Linked DNA regions of Homo sapiens: regions 2, 3, 4 and 5 are each linked to region 1. The links come from fine-mapping of genetic effects on gene expression. A gene starts in region 1. Each other region holds a variant in brackets. All regions are shown on one strand. Distances are between the middles of the regions. Region 1 holds the start of BASP1 (brain abundant membrane attached signal protein 1). Region 2 overlaps BASP1 (brain abundant membrane attached signal protein 1). Region 3 has its middle 2.8 kb from the start of LINC02217. Region 4 overlaps BASP1 (brain abundant membrane attached signal protein 1). Region 5 overlaps LINC02217 (long intergenic non-protein coding RNA 2217).

Region 1 (5,106 bases):
AGAAAACAGAAAGGGTTAGGATCCCGACAAGGTAATCGTTTTCTTCTCTCCGGTTTTTGTAGGCCATCTTGTTCGAATAAACGCCAAGATGTCTTAATTTTCCCCAGGTGGTGTCACTGGAGGCAACGCCCACTGACAGTTTTGAGGCCACCTTCCCTTAATCAAATGACCAAAAAAGATCTGTCAAACGGTTAATTGATGCAAATTAAGAAAGCCACCCTCACTGCAGTAAGATATGTTACAGGAAAAAGAACAATGAACAGTACTAGAAAGGAAAATAACAGTGTGCGGGTACAAAATATTTAATCCACAATTTGCCTTCATCCTCATCAAGGCAAATCTTAATTTTGGTCAATTGAAATCAGCAAGAAAGCAAAAGATGAGAGACAGCCTGGAAAAGAAGAAACACACACACAGGCGGGAAAAACTGTCATTGGTGTCCAAGGGTTTCCCGCAACATTTAGGGCAAACGCCTTTGTTCCTCGGCTCGGGAGGGGAGTGGGTGGCTGGATGATGGAGATGGGATGGGGCTGCCGGGCCCTCCACACCCTGCTCTCCGGCGCATGCGCGAGGCCAAGACAAAGGAATAGGTAATTACAGTCCCGATTCATTCATTTTGCCTGCAGTATACTGGGGGTCTGTTGGCCCGGGCTGTAATCCCGGGAGGTGGGGGTGGGGGGTCGGTCCACAACCCTATAGCAGAAGGCCATTTCGACGCTAGTGTTGGGTTTTAGCCCGCCCCACAGTGCGAGTGGCCGCGGGGGAGACAGAGGTGTTGTCAACCTGTACAAGGTCCTAAAAAATGCACCCATGTGTGCTGTGCTAATTTCAGCAGAGTGAGAATTACATGGGCAAGGGCTGTCCACCGAGTTCGTTTCAAGGCGGAAATGTCTCTGGGGACGCAGATAAGGAGCCTGGCCAAGCGTTCGATGAATATTCATGAAAAGAATGCGGTTTGCAGCCGCGCATTGTGCGTGCGATCGGATCCAGGATTCCGCAATTTTTATTTTTCTGGAAATGGAGGGGGGACGGGGGCGGGGGGAGCAGGAACCGGGCGCCGGGTTTCAGCTTTAGCGCTTTGGGCAAAAGCTGCTCAACCCCAACCCTACGCTCCCAGCGGGGCTGAGCCCAGTTAGGGCCGCGCGCTGTCAGGTTCAAGCCCACACCCCCCGGGCCCGGGCCGGGGCCGGGACCCAGGGCGGAGGCGCCTGGCGCATTCTTGGAACCAAAGGCTCGAAAAAACAAACTGCTCCGAGGCAGCCCACGGGTTCGTAGGAAGGCAATTCCGCCACTGACGAGGCTGGGGCTCCGATCTGCTCGGGAGGTGCTTCTGAGTGCACGTCGCCGTGTGAACCTCGTATTCCTTGGCCCCAGAACCAAGATCCAGGAGTCCCATGGGTCGAGAAAACCCGTTTGCCAAAGCAAAAAGCCACCCACTTCCTTCTGATCGGGCCAGATTCCCCATCTTCTTTCTCCCCGGACTCCCGCCCCACCCCACCCCCACCCTCCATCTTTGGCTGCTGCGCCCCTCGCCCCGAGCGCTTTCTCCCAGGCTGGTAAGGGCTCCGATGACGGAAGCGCTCCCTTCAGCCCACAGAACCGTCTCCCCGGGACTCAACGCACTGAGGGGGTTTCGCATTCGGCAATTCCTCCCGTCACCCGCAGCTCCTCTCCCCGACAGCCCCCTCCCCCCAGCTCCGTTTACCAACCTCGCCGCCCCCCTCACCCCTCCACCATGCGAGCGGCTGAAGCCTCCCACTTCTGGGCCCCCCATCACCCGGGATCCCCGAAGTGCGACGGAGCCCTCACAGAGGGACCCCAGGCCCTTGCCGTCCAATCCGGGCCCACATCCCTGCTGCCCGCTGCATGAAGGGAGAGCCCGGGGGCTGCGGGGCGGGGCGCGGCGCGGTGGGGGACGGAGGCCCCCGGGTCCGCGGCGGCGCGGGGCCACCGGGCGCGCCTCCTTACCGGCTCTGGGTGCCTATGCAGCCCCTGAGTTAGCGCGGTGCCGCCGAGAGGCCGGGGTCGCTGGCGTCGTCTGGCTGGTGCCTGGCCGCTGGCGGAGGCTCTCTCCCGGCTCGACGGCGGAGCCCGGAGCGAGGAGCCAGTTGGAGCGCTGCCGCCGCCGTCGTCGCCGCTGCCGCTACTGCCGCCGCCGCCGCCGCTGCAGCCTCTGCATTTCTCGCGCTCGCTCCCCCTCCCCTTCCTGCCCAGTGCCCTCCCCCCGCGCGTCCGCCCGCCCAGCCTCCCTCCTCCCGCGCTCCCCGCCCGCCTCTCTCCCCTCCCTCCAGCCCGGCGCCCCGCCCGTCTCCCCTCCACCCCCTCCAGCTCCATCTCCCCACCCCCTGCACTCCCTCTGCTCCCCTCCCCTCCTCCGGCGCAGACCCTCCCCTCTCCCCTCCAGCCTGGACACGCCCGCCTCCCCTTGACTCCCCCCAGCTCTGGGCCCCCACCTCCCCTCCCCTCCAGCACAGTCACCCCCATTTCTCTCCTATCCGCCATCCTGGTTCCTCCCTTCCCCCCACCTCCCAACTCTGTGCCCCGCCAACGTTTCCTAAATGCCCTCTATTCAGATCCCCCCTCCGCCTCCCCTCTCCTCTCCTCCATTCCTGCGTCCCCCTTCCCCCGCCGCGCCGCCTGGGCTGTCCGTGGACTTCTCCCACTCTCTCACTCTCTCACTCACTCTCTCTCTCTCTCTCTCTCTCTCACTCTCTCTCTCTCTCTCCCCCTCATTTATTTGGAACCGTTGGATAAGAAGTGCTCGGGCTCTCGCTCAGACTTAGGGAGCTGCCTCGAGGTGATGAATGACACCCCCTGGCACCAGCTACCCTTCTCAGACCCCAGTCCAGCCCGCTCCCGACGTCGACTACGATTCCGCTACCTCGGCTGGCAGCGAGGTTGGGGTGAGCCCCAGCTGCAGGCGCGTCTGGGCTGCGCCGCTGCAAACGAGTTGCGCACCTTGGGCGGCTCCGCACCTGCACCCGCACCCGCGGGGCTCAGCCCCGAAGGCTGCAGCTTCGGGGGAGGCGCGGTCGCCGAGGTCCAGCTGGTGGGGCGAGAGACGTCGCCCCTCGGAGGATGCTCTCGGAACTTGGGAGAGGAAGGAGGGAAGAGAAGAGGGGAAAGGGGCCGTCGATGTTTTTGATGTCTGTGCTTTAATGGAGGCCACCAATATTGAGAAGACGGGGTTGGCCGAGGCAGCCCGCACGCTGCTGCTTGCGAGCGCTCGAGTCAAAGCTAGGGCCAACCGCGGCTTGTCCGGGTGCCCTAAGGGGGCGGACACTTGGTTTAGCACCGGGACACAGAATAGCCACCGGGGTAGGAAGATGCGTTCACTTTGCTTACCTGTTGGCAAGAGGGACATACAAAAATAACGTAACGTGACATCGTTGACAACGGTAGCTCTTTGATTACACAAAAGCCAATTTTACCTTCCCGCAAAAGCCAGTTGACGCCTTTGGAACTTTTATTTGCGGCATTTTGGCGCCCTCTGGCTGTGTTTGGATCGCTTTCATGCTCGCCTGCGTCCCAGCCAAGAAAAAATCGATGGAGCTGCAGGTTGTCCTCAGGATGGTTCTGCCCTCAGGACCTGGGCGTGAATTCAGGGACAGGGTGGCCCTCCAGAACCGGAGTGACAAACTGTAACCATACTTAGGGAGGCAGACGTCAAAGGCAAGTACATCTGTATTCAACTGGGTAAAGGTAAGTGCATTTTCACTTAACAGGAAAATTAACTTATCGTAACTTTAACGTACATATTTGAATTAAGCAAAGTGGCAATATTTACTCAACTGCACTAGCGATTTTGCAGTGGAAACACTTGACGACCCTACTGTACACATTTACAGGTCATAGGAGGCAGCACCAAATTAGATTAATGCATGCCAGCTGGAAATGTTCAAATTTAAACCAAAGGTAAGAAAAAAGCGGGAACTGTTTGTTTTTTCCTGTTTCTCTTTCTGCCATTTAAAGTGAAATAAAAAGTTAGTGTAGTAAAATACCAGGGAAGCAAATTACAAATGAGGTTGCTTCTAAAGCATTTTATTCTTTTGAATATTTATTTCCCTCACACCAGTACACCATCTATAAAGCTAAATGGAGGATGCAGGTTTTCCCACCTCCTTTTGGGGCCAGATATTTCTTTGTTGTGGAAGGCTGTCCTATGCACTGTAGGATGTCTGGCATTCATTGCTGGCCTCTACTAGCAGCCAGTACCACCCTCCACACACACCACCAGCACCAGCACCAGTTGTGACAACCAAAAATGTCCCCAGATATCGCCAAATGTCTCCTGGGAGGCAAAATCACTCCAGGCTGAAAACCACTGAGCTACATTTTCTTTCAACCTCTATGAGCAAGTCTCTAGGTTTTTACCCTATCGAATTAGATGAATATTTGCAATGTTCTGCTCAAGACATTTCCTGAGTTTGTTAGAGGAGCTGCCTACTTGTTCATTTAGCATTCAGGGTTTTTATCCTTGTGATCTTCCAGGCATGTAAATCATCTAAAAATTAGCAAATACATTTCCTCATTGTATTTGCAGTCTAAGCCTGTGGGTGTTATCTTCCTTCTCTATTCTCTTTTTCCAATTTTTCCAAAAAAAAAAGACAACATAAAAATTAATGTTCAGTACCTTCAGTGCTTCCAGCTAAATTTTCATGATGGAGAAAACAAACCTTTCAAAGGTGTGATTGGAATACAGATCACGGGTTACCATAGAAACCGGAGGCAAAAGCTTACACCAACAAGGAGAACTGCAGGTCTCCTTAATTTTGTCTTCCATCAGATTTAGTTGTTCTCTTAAAACATTTTTTTAAATTTTTTTAAAGGAGGGTGAGAATTCATTTTCAATGAGATAATGATGCAACTGACTGATAGTGCTATTAATCTTTAGAAGCTTTTACAGAATTTGTAGGTTTGCAGCAAATGGTTGCCAAAATGTTACCTCTCAATGTAACAATATTACTATATAAAATCCAATTTGGCGATGTTTTTAGTCTAATTTTTAGTTGTTCATCTAATATCATACTTTTTAATGTGTATGCTCTTTAAAACATTTTTTTAAACTGATGCTTAGGGAATAAATGAATAAACCTTTAAAGTTCT
Region 2 (5,106 bases), 39 kb before region 1:
AATCCCAGAGGGCTGTGACATTTAAAAACATAACAGAGGGTATTTGTCCCCAGCCATGGAATTCCAGAGACGATGCATTTCATCCCCAGACTTGGGGATGAAACACAAACTAGAATTCAATACCAACTGCCCCTTACTCATGATGTGACTCAGAACAAAGTCACTTCAACCTCTTATTTGCCAATGTTTCTGTATAACGTGTCTAATATTGGGAGTGAAATTTATGTAAACAGGAATCATCTGAGAAGCTTGTTAAAAATATAGGTGGGGGGAGTGTTATCTCTTTCCCAAGATAATTAATTAGTGGGCTCAGCATGAGTCCCAAGAATCTATTTTCTACCAAGTTGACCAGGTAACACCAAAACAAGTAGTGCAGGGGCTGCATGTTGAGAAATACATATACATAGCATTTGCAGTGACTTTGAAAACTAATGCTTTTGCATCATCTGTAAAACCTGAAACATGAAAATCCCAAAGACCAATGTGATTACTGCTGGTTACAAAGCTAAAAACAAGCACAGCAGAAAACCTAGCCAGGTCTAACCGAGAAGTGAGTGTGCACAGAACAGGTGGTGTCGGCCCCAGTGAAATCTCATCAGCTATAGAGATATACTGCCTTTGAGTTCTCTTTGCTACCAGAGCCACAAATAAATTAGAATGACCCAGACCTACTCTCCCTATCAGAATTTCCCCAGCAGCCAACTGCCGTCTTGTTAGTACCACAGTTTAGCCAGAGGAGGCAAGATATAAGCAGCCTGTATGGAAAAGCAAGAGCAGTGTGAGCAATTTCAAGAACCCCTGATGATAACACCAGGCCCTGGGCAGTCCCCTTGCTACCCCAGATGCTCCTGTCACTGGCAGGGGAAACACAGGAACGGTGCTGTTTGGCTCTGTAAGCTCCTTTCTTACACAACATGAAGCTTCCATTGTTCAAGGTTTATAGCCTGCCCTGTGAGACAATACTGTTTTCAGAAGCCTCCATTTTATGTAATTAAAGTTCACATTTCAGAAAACAGGTTTTCCTCTTTTAGTTCAAGCGGAACTTTGATGGCTTGCCAATAAGTTTTGGATCTCAATCCAATATACTCTGTGAAAAAAAGCACATAGGCAAGGGGATGAGAGACCACGTTCAGCTATGTGACCTGGGGCAGGGAGTCAGCCTCAGTGAACTCAACCTTTGCCTACAGAAGAAAATAGAAGGGGAGGTGGTTGTTAGCATTAAATGGAATATTTGCAGTAAAGGATATAGTTCAGCTCACTACACACAGTAGGTATTCAGTACATTTTACCTTCATTTACCTAAAACCATTTCCCAGCTCCATTCATGTAGAATAGAGAATAACTCTGAATTTCAAGATTAAGTAAAAGATCGGTGGGACCAATTACTGTATTCAACACAGGTAAACAATAGGAATTGATTCAATTATAACAAAAAGAATCACTCTTTTTGTTTTGTTTTTTAATCACTCTTTTTAATATTTAAATTCTAGGTTATAGCCTGCAATATCTGTTATATAATCTGTAGATTCTAAGAGCAAGTAAATGTTAATAAATCTCACAATGATAAAAACAGCCTCCTCACACTGGTAAAAGATGAATGCCATCCAGGAATACAAATGCCTGCATCCAGTATATACAGAAAAATGTCTCCAAGAAACTATCAAAAGGGAGAATGAGCCTCAAAATGTGTTCTAAGTCCCAGGAGAGACTCTATTTAAAGCAACCTCAGCAGATAGTGTCTTTTCCAAACTATTTCCATCTTACTGGCTTTAGGTTAGGTAGAAAGGTTGTGATAAAGGACCATGTGCCATATTCTGTTTCACCCAGTTCACTTGTTTGGGGTTCAGTTAAATTATCAGGAAACCTTTTCCCTAGAAATATTTTTTTTTCCACCCACAGCTATAAAATCCTATATTCAAACACAAAGTAAAGCAAAGAATTACTGGAGATCCTTCCTCAACCTTAGCATGCAATTAAGGCCACAAGTCAGCCACCAGTATTTTTTTCCTATAGGCTTAGAGAATCACTCTCCTTAGAAAAGCAGCCAATATCATTCATTGTACTTGATTTTTAAAACTTGAATTTTTAAACGATTTCTGTTCAACTTGGGATTCAGTCTCGTTACAGCCACTAAACTAGCTGCTGACATTAAACAAGCCACTGTTAACCTCCCAGGGTTGGTTATTTCATTTGTAATATAAATGACTAGAATTGTATCCTTTATGTCTATAATTTTTAGTTTTTGCACAAACGTGCAGTAATAATGTATACACACAACTAGATTCTATTGAGCACTCAAATTCACTTATTTATTTGAGAAATGACACAAACATCCAGGCACTGCACTAGAAGCAGGGCACCCAAAGGTCGACCCTGACTGCCCATAGATCTTTCCATTCTACATCATAGGAAAACTATGACTCTTAAAAGGGTCAAAGGTAGCAGAGCCGATGCTAGCCTGTGAGCTAAATTCTGACAGTGTGGCCTTAAACAATTTTAACAAATAAACTACAACAGAAAAATCAATCTATTCCACAAGAGTTAGAGTAGAAAAGAACTAGGCAGGCTCCTAAATCTTTCCTAATGTAGTTTTCTGGATTCACCTTGGAATGTCCTTCAAATTGTTTGTGCTCTGAGATATGGGCCAAGGTGGAAGCTGCAAAAAAGTGGGGTGCAGGCAAGTCATGCAGATACCAGACAAATGAAGAGCATGTGAAACCTCAGATGTCAACAAGAGGACACCTCAAGATTCCCTCAGCTGGGTGCAAATTCCTTCTGATTCAAAGACCAAGTTTCTACCCTACACACTCAGCCCATGCCTCCTTCATGTGAGTATCTTGAGTTCCCTATCTAGAAACCTACTCTGGTGTGCAGGACGTTGCTAAATGAAATATACTGGTGACAGCATTAGTCTTAAGAAATCATGAAATTGCAACAGATATGTTTGAGGAAAGGCATAGTGTCTTAATAGGAGTCAAATGCAAACATTGTCAACTTGAAACAGAAGGTGGAAGTGAAAGAG[ATGCAT/T]TTAACATGAGCAAATTTACCTGATTTATACAAGCTGGCAAAACTCTGCCTCAGTGATGATTCTGAATGTTCTATTATTTACGTCCACAGTCAGCCTTGCATCTCTACAACTTCCTACCCTGTAACACCGTCAAGAGTGGTGAGTGATGTGTTACACGTTGCAACACTTCCTGATCGACACCAGGCATCCAACGTGGGGCAAGAGGTTTCAAAATACATAGTGGCTTCAGATTAGCACAGGTACCACAGATTCCACATGATTCTCAGATGTTAAGGAAAATACAGAATAAAAGCTTGGAAAGTAATAGTAAACTATGACTCATGAGTCTGTTTTAATGGGAAAAAAAAACCTAGTGAACTTATTATAGTTTTAAGTGGGTAGATTACTATGTCATTAATGTGAAATGGAAGGACCTAAAATAGATTAAAAATTGAACCAAAGGGAAGGAGGATTTTTGTTAGAACAGCATGTCCTAGCTCTTGTGAATCTACACCTGTCCCTCACATCTCTAAGATTTCTTCTAGAAAATAAATGGATTGAGTCACTTCATCTCCAAAATTCCAGGTATCTCAAACACTAATACAATAAATACTAACATAGAAAGATTTGCAGGTCCAAATCTTTTACATGTTTGGAACAATGGGTCCAAATAAATAAATAAATAAAATGTTGCCAGTTAGAATAAATGATCATGTAACATGAAGAGGGGAAAATATCAAAGCTACACCTTCGTCAGTTCGAAGAAAGCAGAGGGTGAATTGAAATTATCTACGACCACCTGCAAAGAGGGAACATTTACCAAGATACCCGTCAGTCTCAGAAAATTCTTACTTCCTTTGGTGTCAACTGAAATCGTCTGTCCAATGTGGGATCTCTTGCAATAAGGATATCCAACATAGATGGTGCTTTAAGATTTATTCTCTCTGTTTTTATATTGGGCCTCTTTGCCTCTTTTTTCTTATTCAAACCTAAAATGTCTTCGGATCAGTCCTAAGCATGGTACATACTAAATTTCAGTATTCTAGATGACAGGATTCATACTTTGTAATGATTCAAAGGTGGGATCTGCAAATCTTCTCCAATTAAAATCTGATAAATAAATGTGATTATTCAAAAACTGTATTGAGCACCATGATGCACTGCAGATCCGTTGCAAACTGAATGCTTTTATCAACTTACCTCCCTTTACTTATTCACACAGACTTATTTCATTGGTAACATAGCTGTGAAAGTGACAGAACTGCATTTCCAAAAAAAACTACACTAGAATCCGAACCATCATCTAAGTCAGGCAAAAGCATCTTCCTTTACTTGGAATTATGGAATCTTGATTGTGATAGGTGATCCTAGTAGATTCATAGCACTTCCCAAACTCAGTCTACAAGCCCACCCTTGTAACACTGCCATGCATGAGTGCAGCTTGTCTGGAAAGGAACAGGCACTTTAAAAATGAACACAAAAGATGAATTACAATTATGTTAGCAGATATTTGTTTTTTCAATTACAAATAAATGAGAACTAACTGCTAAAAAGATAATCTGCTTATGACTATTTGCAAATTAATTATTCTCACTTGTCATAATCAACACTAATTTACCTTCAAGATGCTAAAGTTTTCCTGGTTTGTTCTCTGAGAAAAAATATATATATATTTTTTCCCTTAAAGATCTAGTCTAGTTCAAATTACCAAAAACTCAAGTATAGTACAAATGGAGATTTGTAATCTGAACACATCCTAAAGCTATCAACATGCAAGTTCTACTTATAATGCTTTTCCAAAATAGCTACGTACATCTTTTGCATAAAACAAAAAAAAACACTAGATACAGTAATTAATGTTGAAGGATTTCTCTGTTCCATAAAGCCTCCTGAATGTGTCGGTGGTCTTCTCATCACTGGTGAGTAAAACACACGTAAATTTGTTAATAAAGCAAGTATCCACGCTCTCCCTTGATCACAGATTCCAGTCTGTAACCCCAGGTATCGGGATGCACACAGATGGTGGTCAAAGCAACATAAACTTCTCAATTTGGTAATTGAGGGTCTTCATGATTAAGACAATAGTTCTGAAAGATATG
Region 3 (5,106 bases), 180 kb before region 1:
TTAACACCAGAGAAACTGGAAAAGAGGACATAATTCCAAGTTTAAATTTTTTCTACTGTACACTTTATACTGGTTTGCTAATACCGTTAGATATTTTTATTCACCCCTAGATAGTGGTTGCATTTTATCCCCTACTGAAGAAGAACACTGCATGGTTACTACACAACAGTATGGACAGTGTTTGAAAGTTGAATGGAAGATGATCAAATGAGGTTAAGCTTTCAAGTTGGGAAAAAGGGAGAAAGTGGGAAAAAGTAAGTATTCCTATAAATTTTTTAAGTCAACAAACATAATTATTTTTGTTTCTTAAGGGCTGTTCTGAAAAATGTGAGGAAACTCACCACTTGGTTAAATTTCAGTCATCAACTGAATTATTTAAAGCAAGAAATCTGAGTTTGATTCTGCTTTCATAAAAGAAGCAAACCAGCAAAAGAGGCCTTTTAGAATTACTATATTACAGTAGTTTAAAATAGAAATGCAGCTAGTGCATTTAACACTTAGTCTTCTTCTCCTTATCTTAGTTCTTTAAAATCATCACCAGTGCCCTGGTGGTTGAAAAATTGAGCTGTAACTCAATCTGTGCCATTAATGGCAGAATCCTGGGTCAGTCTATTAACCTATTTTGATCTCAGTTTCCTCATTTGTAAAATGAGAAGAGAGTGGATGAGTGATTTTTCAAATGTTTTGTTAATTGACAGAACTCCCTTCTTTTTCCCAAAGGAAATGTTACCAGGAATCCTGAGACAGGAAACCTGAAAGGCAGGATGGAGAAGATTCAGCTTCCCTCTCTCCCTCCAGGCACACCCCAGAATTCTGGGAAAGAGAATTGGAAAACTGGCTCAGAGGGTCCTATTTTGAGTCTTTCACAGCAATCCTGGCAGGTCCTGGAGTGGACCTGCAAGAAAGGATGAAACGAGGGCAGGTATGCTAAGCTGATAGCCCACGTTAGCTCAAAGGGAAAAGAACACATTTTTCCTAGTTGTAAGTCTGAAAGTGGAATGAGAGATTAGTCCTGAGATAACCTTGGAAGAATCTGTCCCCACCTCCAGGGTTACAATGTTGACTCTTTGAATGGTATTTCTGCCCTGCGTCTTAACTTTCCTGGAAACCCCTCTGCCTGCTCTGATCCCTGAGCCCAATTTAACCTCTTCCTCCTCATCTTCCTCTTAACCCACCATATGGCTCCCAACACCCACATTTTGGCCCACGATGCTTTCTCTCTGTGACCCACCCGAGCGGGCAGCCCTGATTCAGGAAACAGGGGTTATAGTTACTGGAAAACAGATGCCTCAATGGCAATAGGACAAACTTTGGAACAAAGGAGCTCACGGGTCCTTTACGACCTAAAATCTCTAAATCTCTTGCATTGTCTTGCTCAATTGAAATAAGCCGGGGCTTTGTGTTTCCTCTCACCCGCATTCAAAGAGCTGGTGCTGATGACACTTGATTTTCCTCACTCTTCGTTCCTAAGGCAAAGTGAGAAAATGCTTTCAAAACTAGCTCTAAATTTGGCTCATTTTCGCTCTTTGGAAAAATAGAGAGAGAGAGAAAGAGAAAGTCTCACTTTCCTACTCCTACAACTTATTTTAAAATTTGCAGAGGAATTCCCACAGAACTCCTGCAGTTTAAAAAAAAAAAAATCTATTAGCCTGTAAAATGTCCACAAATTCTTCGGCACCCAAAGCCTAGCCGGCAGCTGGTGCCCCACGGCTATTATTATCCCACCCTGGGATTCACTTGTAAAAGCCTCACACACAGTAAACAAATGTCAGAGAGCAAACACAAAGCTCTCTCTAAACTCAAGACATTCTAATTCTTATCTGTTCACTGTCGAAATGTTTACCTGTCCCTTCAATGTTCTGGGCATCTCAGCTGTCAACTAAAAGGAAGAAGCTGAGCCAAAATTAACATAAGTAGAGAGTTGATTCGGGCCAAGCTTGAGGATTGCCGCCCTGGAGAGTATTCAAGTGGATTTTTAAAGGAAAAAGAAGAAAGCAGTTCCTGAGTTGTTTACCAATAAATTATGTTAAAATAACATAAGGTGTTCTTTGTATTGCAAATTCCAGCAACAAGAAGATAATGTGTTAGGCAGTTAATCTGGAACAAAATGCCTTTAAAACATTACCCCCAGGCAGGGGTGCAGGGTGGGGAGGGAATGATTGGAGTTCCATACTTCTGTCTCTCTGGGCCTGATAAATTTCTCATACCTCATGTAGCTCAGAACGCTCTATTTTTCTTTCCTCACAGACATGTGCCTTAGAACCCTGTATTTTGAAAGTGAAAAGACAAATAATGCATTCCAGGGATCACTGAGGTGATCTCCACCCAGCCCCACTGCAGTGGCCTTGATCTTTTTCAACCGACCCTCCTCCTTCAAAACCATCTCCTGGGGCCCAGCAATCTCTCTTCTGAAGGGGCTAGAGATGCAATGGCTTGAAACTGCAAGATCCCGGACTTCCCGTCCTAATGACATTTTGTTGGTGTCCATTTAGTTAATACACAAACAGGTAGGGAGGCAGTTAGTTGTTCTGCTTGCTGGGATGATGAAATAACAGACTCTTACTCCCAACTTCCCCTTGCTAAAGTGCTAGCTCACCGCAGGACTCATTCGGCGCCC[C/T]GTGGGAATGGAGAAAGGGATTACCTGTCAATAATACATGAGCACAGAAAGCCCTAGAAATGTGTGCCTAAGGCCAACTTGAAATGGGGAGTGGGGGAGAAAGAAGTCACTTGACGACACAGAAGGGAGAGAATAGCCCACATTCTGCTACAAATTTTCATTCAGCAAACACTTCTCTCCTCCTGGTCCTTCCACCTGGGTAAATTTCACATTAGCAATCCTGAAACAGCAAATACAGCTCTTTCTAGAAAAAGGCAAGGGAGGGAAAAGAATAAAGTGAATCCGGAGGGCATTGATCGTGTGTGAGTGAGTGAGTGTATGTGTGAATATGAGAGTGTATGTTTGTGTGTATGAGTGTGAGTGTATATGTGAGTTGGCGTATGTCTCTGTCAGCGTGTGATTGTGTGTATGTGTATCTGTGTGTGTGTGTGTTCATCTTTATTTTTACTCCTTTTATTCTTCAACATTGTTGTCTCACAAACTGCCCCCAGCAATGATTTTTGTTCTGTGAAATCTAATTTTCAATCTTTTCATCTCAAGGGTGAGGCGCAGCATAACTTCCACATCAATTTCCCAATATTTCAAGGGATACGTGACTCTACGTAACACTTTTCCAGATCGCTGAATTTAACCGTTTAACTCAAACTCTCACTTTCAAATGAAACACGTCATATATTATAAACTTATTTTCCTTCCTTAGTAAAATACACAAACATGATTCAAAGTTTTCTTGATAGCTGAAGATCATAATTCTGAGCCACTATTTCTTTATATAATATTTCTTTATATAATATTTCTTTATATAATATTTATATATTATATAATATTTATATATTATATATTATATATTGTATATAATATTATATAATATAATATTTCTGTAATATAATCAGCCCTTCGTGGGCCATGACGTGTAGCATGGTGACTTTCTACACAGCAAAATAGTTCCGGTTTTCTTCTCCTCAGACCTGACACCCCCTCTTCCCTGTCACTGCCTGCTAGTCACTGATAGCCTAAGAAAATTACAGTCTCCATCTGCAGCCAATCAGCCACCACACTTGTACCTTTCCACTAGGCTAGGCTGCTTTTATTTTATTTTGACTTATTTTATTCTGTTTCTGCTCCCCTTCTCCAAGCTTCCTTCCCTTCACTTCTGGTCTTTCAGCTCTCAGGCTGGCTCTAGCTGAAGGCTGTCTTGTTTGGTTCTGCTCTGATAAGTGACAATTTCACCACCTTGAGGTATTTAGGTCCCAGTTCTCATTTTTTCAGTTTTTGTTTTGTTGGGGAGTTGTTTAATCCTAGTTCACTTCACTGCTGGAAATAGTTTCTTCGCCTCCTTCGATACCTTCCAATTTAAGGTTTGATGCCATTCTGGGAATGGGAGATGGCCCCAAAACTGCCTCCGATGATCCAGGCTCTGCAGTGATTTCCAAATAGCAGATAAGGAATTGACAGTTGTAGAAATTGGAGCTGGCAGCACTTCCTTAAAAATACATTAACTCCAAAAAGAGAGGAAATAGGCATTTTGAGGGACGAACTCAAATTTTTGCTCTAAAAATGAAAATCCTAATATATAGGATAGATAGGAATTGGATTCAGCAAACTATATGCTATACAAACCTGAAAGTTGCCTCTAATTTCCCAACTGGTAATCTCAATTCTATAATCATGGGCACAGAGTCCATTCCCCAGTGGTCTCAACTCACTTTGGGAGCAGACCGTGTTTACCTGCCACAGTTAGAGAACAATCTTCCCAGTCTTGCATTTCTTCCTTTAGAGAAGGAAGAGCTGAGGTGCAGCCACCTGTTGCACCTTCTGCAACCCTCAAGCTACCAAAATTGTACTTGACAACAGTTTGTTGAAAAATGGACAGAAGTGCCAAATATCCATTTGTCTATTCAAATGTACAAGCCACCTTCCTAGTGAAATGTTGGTTGCAATTGCATTTGAATTAAACTTTAGAGTAGGGGGGAAAGAGACGTGTACATTTCCACTTTTCAGTTCCTTTAAATGCTAAATAGACATCATGATATTCAGTCAGTCCTGCTTCCTGAGGTTATTACCAGGCATGCAAAAGAAATACACTGAACTCTTTTAAGGAAGTGCAGAATATGTGATATTGAAGTATGACAATATAATACCTTAATTAAGGAGTTAATTTTCTATTTCCTCTAATGAATATAATCAACCGCTACCTCTTTGTTCTCCAGTCCATCACTTAATTAATCAGTTCCTCCAAGCAAAGTGAACATATTCTGGTCCCTGAATAAAGTGGAGAAATATCTGCCATAGTCCGTCAGCCTCCAGGCACAGCTGTGTGGAGTTATCCACATCCACAGCCTCCCCTTGCTGGGGCACCGGTAGTCCATGGTTAATGCAGCCCTGGATGACTAGGGGAGGGGCTTAAGCTTGATTCAGACGGGAAATGCACAGATGGTTTTCCCACTTATCTGTCAAAGAAAAACCACATTTCATTCTCCCCAGAAGGT
Region 4 (5,106 bases), 22 kb before region 1:
CGAAAGCTTCAGGGCCTCGTTCACTCCCAGCAAATGCAGCAAATATACAGCACTTAAAGAAGTCACAGGAACATTACTCAAACTGGAAGCAAAACAATAATTTTCTTGTTGACTGATATGCTTCCAGCAAATGAGAGACATGCAACATGAACTAAGATGTTCTGGGTTACACTGGCTACGTAACCTATTATTAATTTCTCTGTGCCACAGTTTCTTCATTTGTACAATGGGATAATAATAGAATCCACCCCACCTAGCTGCTGTATTTTAAAATGTCAATCTTTGGGCCAGGCGCAGTGGTTCACTCCTGTAATCACAACACTTTGGGAAGCTGAGGCAGGCAGATCACTTGAGGCCTGGAGTTCAAGACCATCCTGGCCAACATGGCGAAACCCCATCTCTACTAAAAACACAAAAATTAGCCGGGACTGGTGGTACATGTCTATAATCCCAGCTACTCAGGAGGCTGAGGCACAAGAATCGCTTGAATCTGAGAGGTGGGAGTTGCAGTGAGGCGAGATCACATCACTGCACTCCAGCCTGGGCAACAGAGCAAAACTCGGCCTCAAGAAAAAAAAAAAAAAAAGGAAAATGTCAATCTGTGTAAAGCTTAGAATGTGGCCTGCCTGGCACATGCTAAGCACTAGGCAAGCCTGTGCTCACCAGACTACAAGGTGTTATTTTGTAATGTTATAATTAAAAGAAACTATTAAATATTTTTAAATGCCATTGCAAAAATAAATCTTTGCCTAGTTTTGCCTTCTCTGTAACGATGGTTTTATGTTTCCAACTTAAGATCAAAATCACAAGAGTTTTATCTTTTTGTTTAGTAGGTACCCTAACAAAATACCTTAGATTGGGTAATTTATAAAGAATCAATACTTACTTCTCACAGTTCTGTAGGTTGGGAAGTCCAAGATCAAAGACAAAAGGGGACTAGGGCACTCCCTTCAACTTTTTTATTTTCCAAAATATATGGAATGCTTCACAAATTTGCACTGTCATTCTTGCATAGCAGCCATGTTCATCTCTATATGGTTCCAATTTTAGTATATGTGCTGATGAAGTGGGCACATTATTTCTCTTTTTTTAAAGAGTCAGAACCTCACTCTGTTTTTTATTTTATTATTTTATTTTACTTTATTTTATTGAGAGGAGTCTCACTCTGTCACCCAGGCTGAAGTGCAATGGCGCAATCTCAGCTCACTTCAACCTCTGCCTCCCAGATTCAAGTGATTCTCCTGCCTCAGCCTCCTGAGGAGCTGCAATCACAGGTGCCCGCCACCACGCCCAGCTAATTTTTGTATTTTTCAGTAGAGACAGGATTTCACCATGTTGGCCAGGCTGGTTTCAAACTTCTGACCTCAGGTGATCTGCCTACATCGGCCTACCAAAGTGCTGGGATTACAGGCGTGAGCCACCATGCCCGGCCAGAGCCTCACTCTGTTGCCCAGGATGGAGTGCAGTGGCATGATCACGGCTCACCCCAGCTTCAAACTCCTGGGCTCCAACCTGTTATTTATTTATTTATTTATTTATTTATTTATTTATCTTTATTTTTATTTTTTTCCCAACATGTTCTATAAGAGCACTAATCCCATTAGTGAAGGTGGAATAATCATGACCTCGACATTTCCCAAAAGGCCCCAGCTCTTACTTAATACCATCACACTGGGCATTAGGTTCCAACGTAGGAATTTTGGTGGAACACATATATTCAAACCATAGCATAGGGTCACTTTAAAATTACATCTCTATAAACAGTTCTGACTACAAAACTAGACAAATGAAAAGAAGCAACACCTCCATGCTACCAGGATAAAATTTCCAAAGACCTCATTACAACGGTTACCAGCAAAGAGGATTTTGAATTAGTACAAATTCACAGATTTTGGGGGTAATCTGGACTAAAAGAGTTCTACTTCACTAATTTAAGCCTGTGTTTTCAAATGAAGGGCAGTATCACATGCAAATACAACACATATATCCAAATTCCTAACTGGGTCCTAACTAGGATCAGCTTTACTTTGCAAGGCTCTAGAACAAAGATAACCAAAGTTGTATTACAAGATTGACAGCCTAGGGTATTTAAACACATCCTGACATTGACACCAAGACCCCAGGGTGAGTGTGGGGTCAACGGTTATAACCAAAAATATGGCCTTCTGTTCCATGTACTAACACACTGATCTGTTTTATTTAGATACTGAGTTTAGTAACCTCAAGAATTATTTACC[G/A]TAGTGAATAGGGAGAATTTCCACATTTGCCAAGGCTTTCTTTACGAAAGAGCTGGGCCGGGTGCAGTGGCTCACACCTGTAATCCCCGCACTTTGGGAGGCTGAGGCGGGCGGATCACAAGGTCAGGAGATCGAGACCATCCTGGCTAACATGGTGAAACCCCGTCTCTACTGAAAATACAAAAAATTAGCCAGATATGGTGGCGGGCACCTGTAGTCCCAGCTACTCAGGAGGCTGAGGCAGGAGAATCACTTGAACCCGGGAGGCAGAGGTTGCAGTGAGCTGAGATCATGCCACTGCACTCCAGCCTGGGTGACAGAGCGAGACTCCATCTCAAAAAAGAAAAAAAAAACAGCTGAAGACAGGATGTAAGATTTAGTCAAGTGTTGATTGATATCAAGTAAGGAAGGGAATTGTGTGGTTTTATTCCCCAGCTATTGGATGAACTAAACTGAGCTGACTTCTTACAGGGCTAACATGAGCAAGCACTGAACCAACTGTCCTTTCCTACCCGTTGATCAGACAGCTGGGAAGTCCTCTTGAAGGGAAAGATATTAAAATTTACTGAAGATAACCAAAGTTGAACGGAAAACAGATGATTAATAACTGACACTCAAAAAGAACATTCCACACATTCTTTGAAAACGCATGGAGTCATATCAATATTTAAATACAGTTCACTATGAGTCATGTTTAAATAGTCATATAATTGATGCCATACATCAGATATTTATCAGAAAGCATGAACCATTCGTGGTGCTGGAAAAGAAGATGACAAACTAGGGAAGAGATGGCAGGAGATGAAGGGGAAAAGTAGGTCAGGTTCAGATTTGGAATGAATGCGGTGATGCCTCAGTACATTCAGATGAGACTATCTGGGGATCAGGCGAGCATTTTTATCCCAGCTTCCATGGTTTCCACAGAGCACTTGCATCAAATGCTAGACACACAATACTAAAGGTTTCTCCTCACTGTTCTGAAGCTTGACGTTAGTCTCCATTAACACTTAACTACAGGTTTCATCAAATAGACGTCAAATTATTTCCAAGATAAACATCAGTAGGTGTTAGTTGAAAGGGAGGGGAGGGAGACTCAGCTTCTTCTGTTTCTTTTAAGTTTTATTTTGGTTTCGATAAAAAAAAAACTCAGATAGCCAGCTACGTAGAATGAATTGACTGAACAGTGACCACTTTTCCTGCATAAGACAGCTGAGATGAGGAAGACAACCAAATGAATCTGGAAGATTTCAAAGAAAATGTCCAGTGCTGTACTGAAAAAAAGAGGGTAGTTTAAATAGAAAAAATATATTAATAGAAAGGCACCGAGACAAACAAGTCACAAACCAAATAAAGTGTCAATAGGAGTGCCAATCAAACTGTGTATATCCATCCAAAAGAGAGAAGGCCACTGAGAACAAGAATCCCCCAAATAAGCATTTATGTAATTAAACAGCCTCTTAACATACGTTGTGTTTCATACATGCTTGGCGAACACTGAGAACTACAGGTAATCTTACTTTAGAAAGCAATGTCAGGGGGCCGGACACAGTGGCTCATGCCTGTAATCCCAGCACTTTGGGAGGCCGACGTGGGTGGATCACTTGAGGTGAGGAATTCAAGACAAGCCTGGCCAACATGGTGAAACACTGTCTCTACTAAAAATTCAAAAATTAGCCAGGCATGGTGGTGCATGCCTGTAGTCCCAGCTACTCGGGAGGTGGAGGCAGGAGATTCACTTGAACCCAAGAGGTGGAGGTTACAGTGAGCCACTGCACTACAGCCTGAGTGGCAGAGCGAGACTCCATCACGGAAAAAAAAAAAAAAAAGCAATGTCAGGGGACACTCACCTAGCAAGAACCAGATTATAGAACCTGTTTAAGCATCTTATTTCCAGAGACCTGTAATGTGTGCAAGCTCAACTATAGATTTAGGCAATTTTCTTTCTTCAAAATGAGCCATACCGAAGTCACTAATGTTAAGAACAGGTTCTCAGTCTGTGCTTTAATCCAGAAAAGCATTCTGGGTGAGCTCAGTGAGAGTTCTTTGGGTCCTTCATTAGATAGCCTTATCACCTTTCTTTCTTTTTTTTGTTTTGTTTTGTTTTGAGACGGAGTCTCGCTGTGTCGCCCAGGCTGGAGTGCAGTGGTGCGATCTCGGCTCACTGCAAGCTCCGCCTCCCGGGTTCACGCCATTCTCCTGCCTCAGCCTCCCAAGTAGCTGGGACTACAGGCGCCCACCACCACGCCCAGCTAATTTTTTGTATTTTTAGTAGAGACAGGTTTTCACGTGTTAGCCAGGATGGTCTGGATCTCCTAACCTCGTGATCCGCCCACCTCGACCTCCCAAAGTGCTGCAATTACAGGCGTGAGCCACCATGCCCAGCCACCTTATCACCTTTCTTTACAATACCTCCATCAAGAATTCTTGGTTGTTTACTACCCGGTGGGCTGGTAGATTTCATTAGCTTTCAAAGTATACAGAAAAATCTCAGCTTTTGAAAATTCCAGAGGAATGACACAGTAGCGCAAGCAGCTTTTTAAATATACAGAATTTTGTTTTATTTACATCGACTGCCTATTAAGAATTTTTTTCTGAAGATTAGAAGATACCAAGAAAAGTACTAAAAACATTTTTTTCCCTTAAGATATGGGTCTAGTTAAGAGTGCATTGCTCACCATATTTGAACCACTCAGCTTTCAGATATCAGGGTCTTCATATCTTTAATTCCTATTATTAAAATATTTCTGGGTTTTTATTTCCAACAATAACATGAAAAATAAACTCTTAGGACCTGCTCTCAGGATATATTCAGTAGCCATCTAACTACACAGGAGAGGATATGAACAAACAGTGAACATTTTATCAATCA
Region 5 (5,106 bases), 220 kb before region 1:
TGCAGATCCAAGTGGAATCAGCCTGGATTCCCATCGATTTCTTTCTTCAGGAACTGAGCTCGTGTTCCTCGTCTTCTTCCTCCTCTCAGACACTAGCAAGCCCTCTCGCTCTTCACTTGCACCATCCCCTCCCCACCCACAAGCCTGACTATGAAGTGGGATGTCACCCTACTTTTGCCTCCCCTTCCAGCACATATATTCATTTCATCTTAAACTGTTTCCGCTAATCACTTTGGGAAACAGAGATAATTAAAATCATAAGCATGAAGGGAAAAAAAATGAAATCATAAACATGAAGGGATTCAAAAACTCATCATTTGCTTGGAGCCATGCTTCCTGGAGCACTCTTTATTCTACATCTCAAATTATAACTAAGCACAGTTGGGATTCTGCCCCTCTTCCCCCACCCGTCTCAGCTAATTTATTTCTGGGTCCTATTCATTGATTGAATTAAATCCTACTGATGTCATGAAAACATCCAATATTTCCCTGCTCCAAGTGCTCAACTCACAACCCTGAGGCCCACCAGAAGAGGTCTCTGCTGACTCTACCAGCTATTTCCTCCGTAAGGCGGAAATCTCCAAGGTAAACAATCCACCAGCACCTGGTACCTCTCCTTACCCTGCCTCCTTGGAAGAAAGGGAAAAGAGAATTTAGCAGAAAAAAATTCCTCAAACGTAACAAAGTATCCCAGCCCCTTTGGACAGACCTATGTACCCATCTGTCATAAGTAAACCCATACAACAAGAATGTTGCCATGTCTTTAAAAATTCCTGAGGTCCAGCTCGGCGCAGTGGCTCAAGCCTATAATCCCAGCACTTTGGGAGGCTGAGGTGGGTGGATCACGAGGTCAGGAGATCGAGATCATCCTGGCCAACAAGGTGAAATCCCATCTCTACTAAAAATACAAAAATTAGCTGGATGTGGGGGAGCATGCCTGTAATCCCAGCTACTCAGGAGGCTGAGGCAGGAGAATCGCTTGTACCCGGGAGGCGGATGTTGCAGTGAGCCGAGATCAGGCCACTGAACTCCAGCCTGGCAACAGAACTACACTCCGTCTCAAAAATAAAAATAAAAATAAACAAAAATTCCTGAGTTCCTGGCTTTCAAACCCTCAATGTGTCTCCCCTATTCACTCAATTGAGTCATTATCTTTCCAAGCTAGACACATAGGAGCTATCTTTTCCTCCTTCCTTGTCCTTTCCATTTGATCTATGGTCATCACTTATTCCACTATTTATTTTATTGCCCCCTTTTATCCTCACTCTTTTTCTCTTGTATGTTGAATGTATCTGCTAGTTATATGTTAGTCACCCTTGAATTATCTTGAAAGAAACTGACAACAGCTGATGTTTCAAAGATTGACTTTCTATACCTGTTCTGTACTTTCATTTTAGTGATTATTTATTCTATTGTTTTAGCTTAATACTGTTGTTTTCGTACCTTAAATGACCTTGTTTCCCACAAAGCAGAGGGGTTTTTTTTTCGCATTTCCTATTTAACACTTTATAAACACAATAACCTAGGAAACAGGGTTACTTTATATCTACCTTCCGCTCCTCCAGCTTTGATTCCTGGCACACAGCATGAAAAGCAAGCAGAGGAACACAGCAGTTAGCAACTTTCACCACTTTTCATCTGTTCTTCCCCATTATTGAATCCATCTAAGGAAGACATCACTGTGACTGCCGGGAGATGTCAGGCCTCAGAAAGGAAGTTGAAAATTATGTAAGAAATGAGCCCAGTGACCTCCATTTCCTTGCCTCCTTGGTAAATAATTTGTGGTTTTCCGAAACTGGAGGCATATTTTAGAGTTCAAGCAAGGTTGGCAGTAAATTGTCCCAAGGATCATAAAAATGTGCACACAGGGTTTTGCAGACACCAAATCAAATAACTAAAGTGAAGTGAAACCAAAACAGAGCAGATGCGTGTATGCACAGGCATATCCCAGTCCCAGAACTGCAGACAGAGTTGTCTATCTTTTACTGTGTAACATAAATTCTAGAATATTAAACAGTTCAGTGGTAGGGAGGTTCAAGACACTCTTCCTTTAACCTCCAAAATATTTCTAACATCCAGTTTTGACTGTTTTTGTAAAAGAGGTAGCTCATGGGTTACAACTTCAAACTTCGGAACAATTCAGGGCTTAGCAAAGCCGTTGTCCACTGTTCTCATCTTCCGCATGTACTAAGAGAGGTTGGGAAGGGAAGTCAGAGCTGTTAGTAAAGAAACTATGA[G/C]GACAGAGGTGGGGCAAGCAAAGACACATGCTCTGGTGTTGGAAAAAAAGAAAAACAAACTTGAGGATCCTAGCAGGCTACAGATCATAGGGATTAAGAAGAAACTGGCTCAAACTTAAATACTAAGTGTTCACTTCTATTTCCCTTCTGAATAAAACGTTAAGTGATTGTGCCAATACCCTCCAGCAGTTAGCAGAACAGTCCCAACTAGAATACAGAACTCGAGACAGTAAGTTCACGGCTCAGTGGACATATACCCAGATCGCAAACCCTTACAAATAGGAATTTCTACATCCTCCCAATCCCTCCTGTGTTTTTCTCAAGGCACCTACCGGAAAGATCCTCTTCAAGAGAAACCAGGTCATAAGGCTTGTTCACTTCTCAGCTGCAACCATGCAATGGATCTTGAAATCACACAGAGGGAGAACCAGAGCCTCACAATGGCCTCCAGGGTGTCCACCATCTGCTGAGCTTACACCTCCACACGTTCTGCCACCCTCACCTCTCAGGCCCCTCCAGCTGAACCCCTTTTTCACTCTGTCCCAACCAGATGGGGCTCATCGCCACCTCTGTGTCTTTGCACTTTCTACTTCTCCCCCAGAGATCTTCTCACCCTGTTCTCTCTTCTCCCATAAGTCTCTGCTCAGACATTACCTTTTCAGGGAGGCCTCTCTGACCATATCATCTAAATGGGTAAATGACAACTCTTGAACACTCTTGTCCCCCACCTGGCTCTGCTTTTGCATATGGTACTTACCCCCTTCTTTTTTTTTTTTCTTTGAGATGGAGTCTCGTTCTGTCACCCAGCCTGGAATGCAGTGGAGCGATCTCACCTCCCTGCAGCTTTCACCTCCTGATTTCAAGCGATTCTCATGCCTCAGCCTCCCAAGCAGCTGAGATTACAGGCATGTACCACCACAACTGGCTAATTTTTGTATTTTTAGTAGAGACGAGGTTTCACCATGTTGGCCAGGCTGGCCTTGAACTCCTGACCTCAAGTAATCCCTCCACTTCAGCTTCCCAAAGTGTTGGAATTACAGGCATGAGCCTCTATGCCCAGCCCTCACCTTCTTATATTCTGTATATTTGTTTTCTCCCTCACCAGAGTGTGAGCTCTGTGAAGCCAAGAGCTTTCCTCCCTTTTCTTCACTGCTGAATCCCAGCATAAAAAATTATGTCTTGTACACAGTAGGATTCAACAAGGAGATCTATGTGTTATTTATATGTTTTTATATATCTCATTTACATATATGTTGTTTACATATATATCTTACTAACATATATCTCATATAGGTATATACACAAATGGTCCCTAACTTATGATGGTTTCAACTTTACAATGGTGTGAAAGTGAAACACATTCAGTAGAACCTGTACTTCAAGTAGCCATACAACCATTCTGTTTTTCATGTTCAGTACAGAATTCAATAAACTACATGAAATATTCAATACTTTATGATGAAATAGACTTTGTGATAGATGATTTTCTCCAACTGTAAACTGATGTAAGTATTCCACATTTACATGTTAAGTGTCTAAGCACATTTATAGTGGACTAGGCTAAGCTATGGTTTTTGAAAGGTTAGGTGCATTCAATGCATTTTTGACTTGGAATATTTTCAGCTTACCATGGGTTTATCAGAACATAACACATCATAAGTTGAGGAGCATCTTTCTCTCTATCTTTCTCTCTCTCTCTCTATATATATATATACATATATATACACATACATATACATATATATACACACACATATATATGCTCTGTATATATATAGAGAGAGAAAGAGACAACTCTGTTCTCTGAGTGTGTGTGTGTGTGTGTGTGTGTGTGTGTATGCACAGGCACAGAAGAGACAGAAAGAGAAATCAAATCATCCATGGCTAAATTTGAGAATAGATTTGTGTAATTATCTTTATTTTCCCAATCAAAAAGTTAATGAAGAAATGGAACTGACAAAAACAAGTACCAAGCAATATTATACTTCATTAAGGTTTTTCTCTTTTGATTTAATGACTAGACTTATTATAACTTCTTACGAAATAAATTATTGAGCAGAACACAGTTTTGTTGGGGACCAGGAATTTTCAGACACTCGGAACTCTATCCTAGTCTATCCTCTGGGTCTAATGGAAAGTTACTTGCTCAATGTTTATGTGAGCCAGGAACCAGCAGAAGTGGGTGGATAACTTCAGTCAAAACACAGGGAAATTTTAGAGGATGATGGCTGTCAGAAGTCCAGTTGCATATCTGGAAGCCATCTCTTCCTTTATTCATGACTTTAAGGACAAGTGGACATTTTTGAAAAGGTACATGGTGGTTTCTTTATACTTTGGCAAAGAGTCACTGTGGACTCAGGGTGTCCCAGACACAGGGAGCAGAGTGAGTGGCAGAGGAATCTAAGGGTGGTTCGTGATGACTGTTTGATCCAGCAGACACTTTTTAGACGTCTAAAAGGTTGGCATTTTATGGCCTATTTAGTCATTTAAATCCTCATGGGCCTTTGACCAGCAGAAGTGGGTGAATAACTACAGAGCAGTTCAACCTGAACTTCCAATTACAAAAAAGAAAAAGTGAGGGGGCAGGGGTTTGCTGGTGAATGACAGTCTCCTCCCTGAAAAATAAAACAAAATTAAAGTTAAAATAAAACAAAGTTAAAGACTACTGAAAACTAATCTAATAATATTGGCATTTCTTCCCCAAAAATATCAGCTTTAAAGAACTGAATAGAGAGTGGTGGAGAGACTGAGCTTTCCTTTGTTATCGTTCTGTTTTGATCATTTCACTGCTCCTACTTTATTTTAATAATGCGGCCAAAGACTGATTCAACCTCTCTCTCCCACTTTAATAAAGGTTCATTAGTGGATT

Evidence for each region.
Region 2: its variant is fine-mapped to the expression of BASP1 in whole blood (TOPMed, PIP above 0.99).
Region 3: its variant is fine-mapped to the expression of BASP1 in whole blood (TOPMed, PIP above 0.99).
Region 4: its variant is fine-mapped to the expression of BASP1 in whole blood (INTERVAL, PIP above 0.99).
Region 5: its variant is fine-mapped to the expression of BASP1 in whole blood (TOPMed, PIP 0.99).

Annotation. Positions count from the first base shown.
Region 1 is chr5:17,214,673-17,219,778 of GRCh38, reverse strand. BASP1 (brain abundant membrane attached signal protein 1) reads right to left here and starts at 2,148. Exons shown (of 2, transcript NM_006317.5): 1 at 1,969-2,148. It overlaps BASP1-AS1 (BASP1 antisense RNA 1), which reads left to right and starts at 2,357. Exons shown (of 3, transcript NR_027253.1): 1 at 2,357-3,702. RefSeq lists an enhancer at 248-1,028 and silencers at 1,063-1,382, 1,873-2,352.
Region 2 is chr5:17,253,668-17,258,773 of GRCh38, reverse strand. All of the region lies in intron 1 of BASP1 (brain abundant membrane attached signal protein 1), which reads right to left. Among named protein-coding and RNA genes, the nearest start is that of BASP1, 39 kb to the right of the region's middle. The variant ATGCAT/T (reference allele first, on the strand shown) is at 3,023.
Region 3 is chr5:17,398,625-17,403,730 of GRCh38, reverse strand. No RefSeq gene overlaps it. Among named protein-coding and RNA genes, the nearest start is that of LINC02217, 2.8 kb to the left of the region's middle. RefSeq lists enhancers at 1,654-2,299, 2,300-2,945. The variant C/T (reference allele first, on the strand shown) is at 2,618.
Region 4 is chr5:17,236,579-17,241,684 of GRCh38, reverse strand. All of the region lies in intron 1 of BASP1 (brain abundant membrane attached signal protein 1), which reads right to left. It also overlaps the pseudogene RNU6-1003P. Among named protein-coding and RNA genes, the nearest start is that of BASP1, 22 kb to the right of the region's middle. The variant G/A (reference allele first, on the strand shown) is at 2,238.
Region 5 is chr5:17,433,658-17,438,763 of GRCh38, reverse strand. The region is part of intron 1 of LINC02217 (long intergenic non-protein coding RNA 2217); the gene reads right to left. Among named protein-coding and RNA genes, the nearest start is that of LINC02218, 7.8 kb to the left of the region's middle. The variant G/C (reference allele first, on the strand shown) is at 2,238.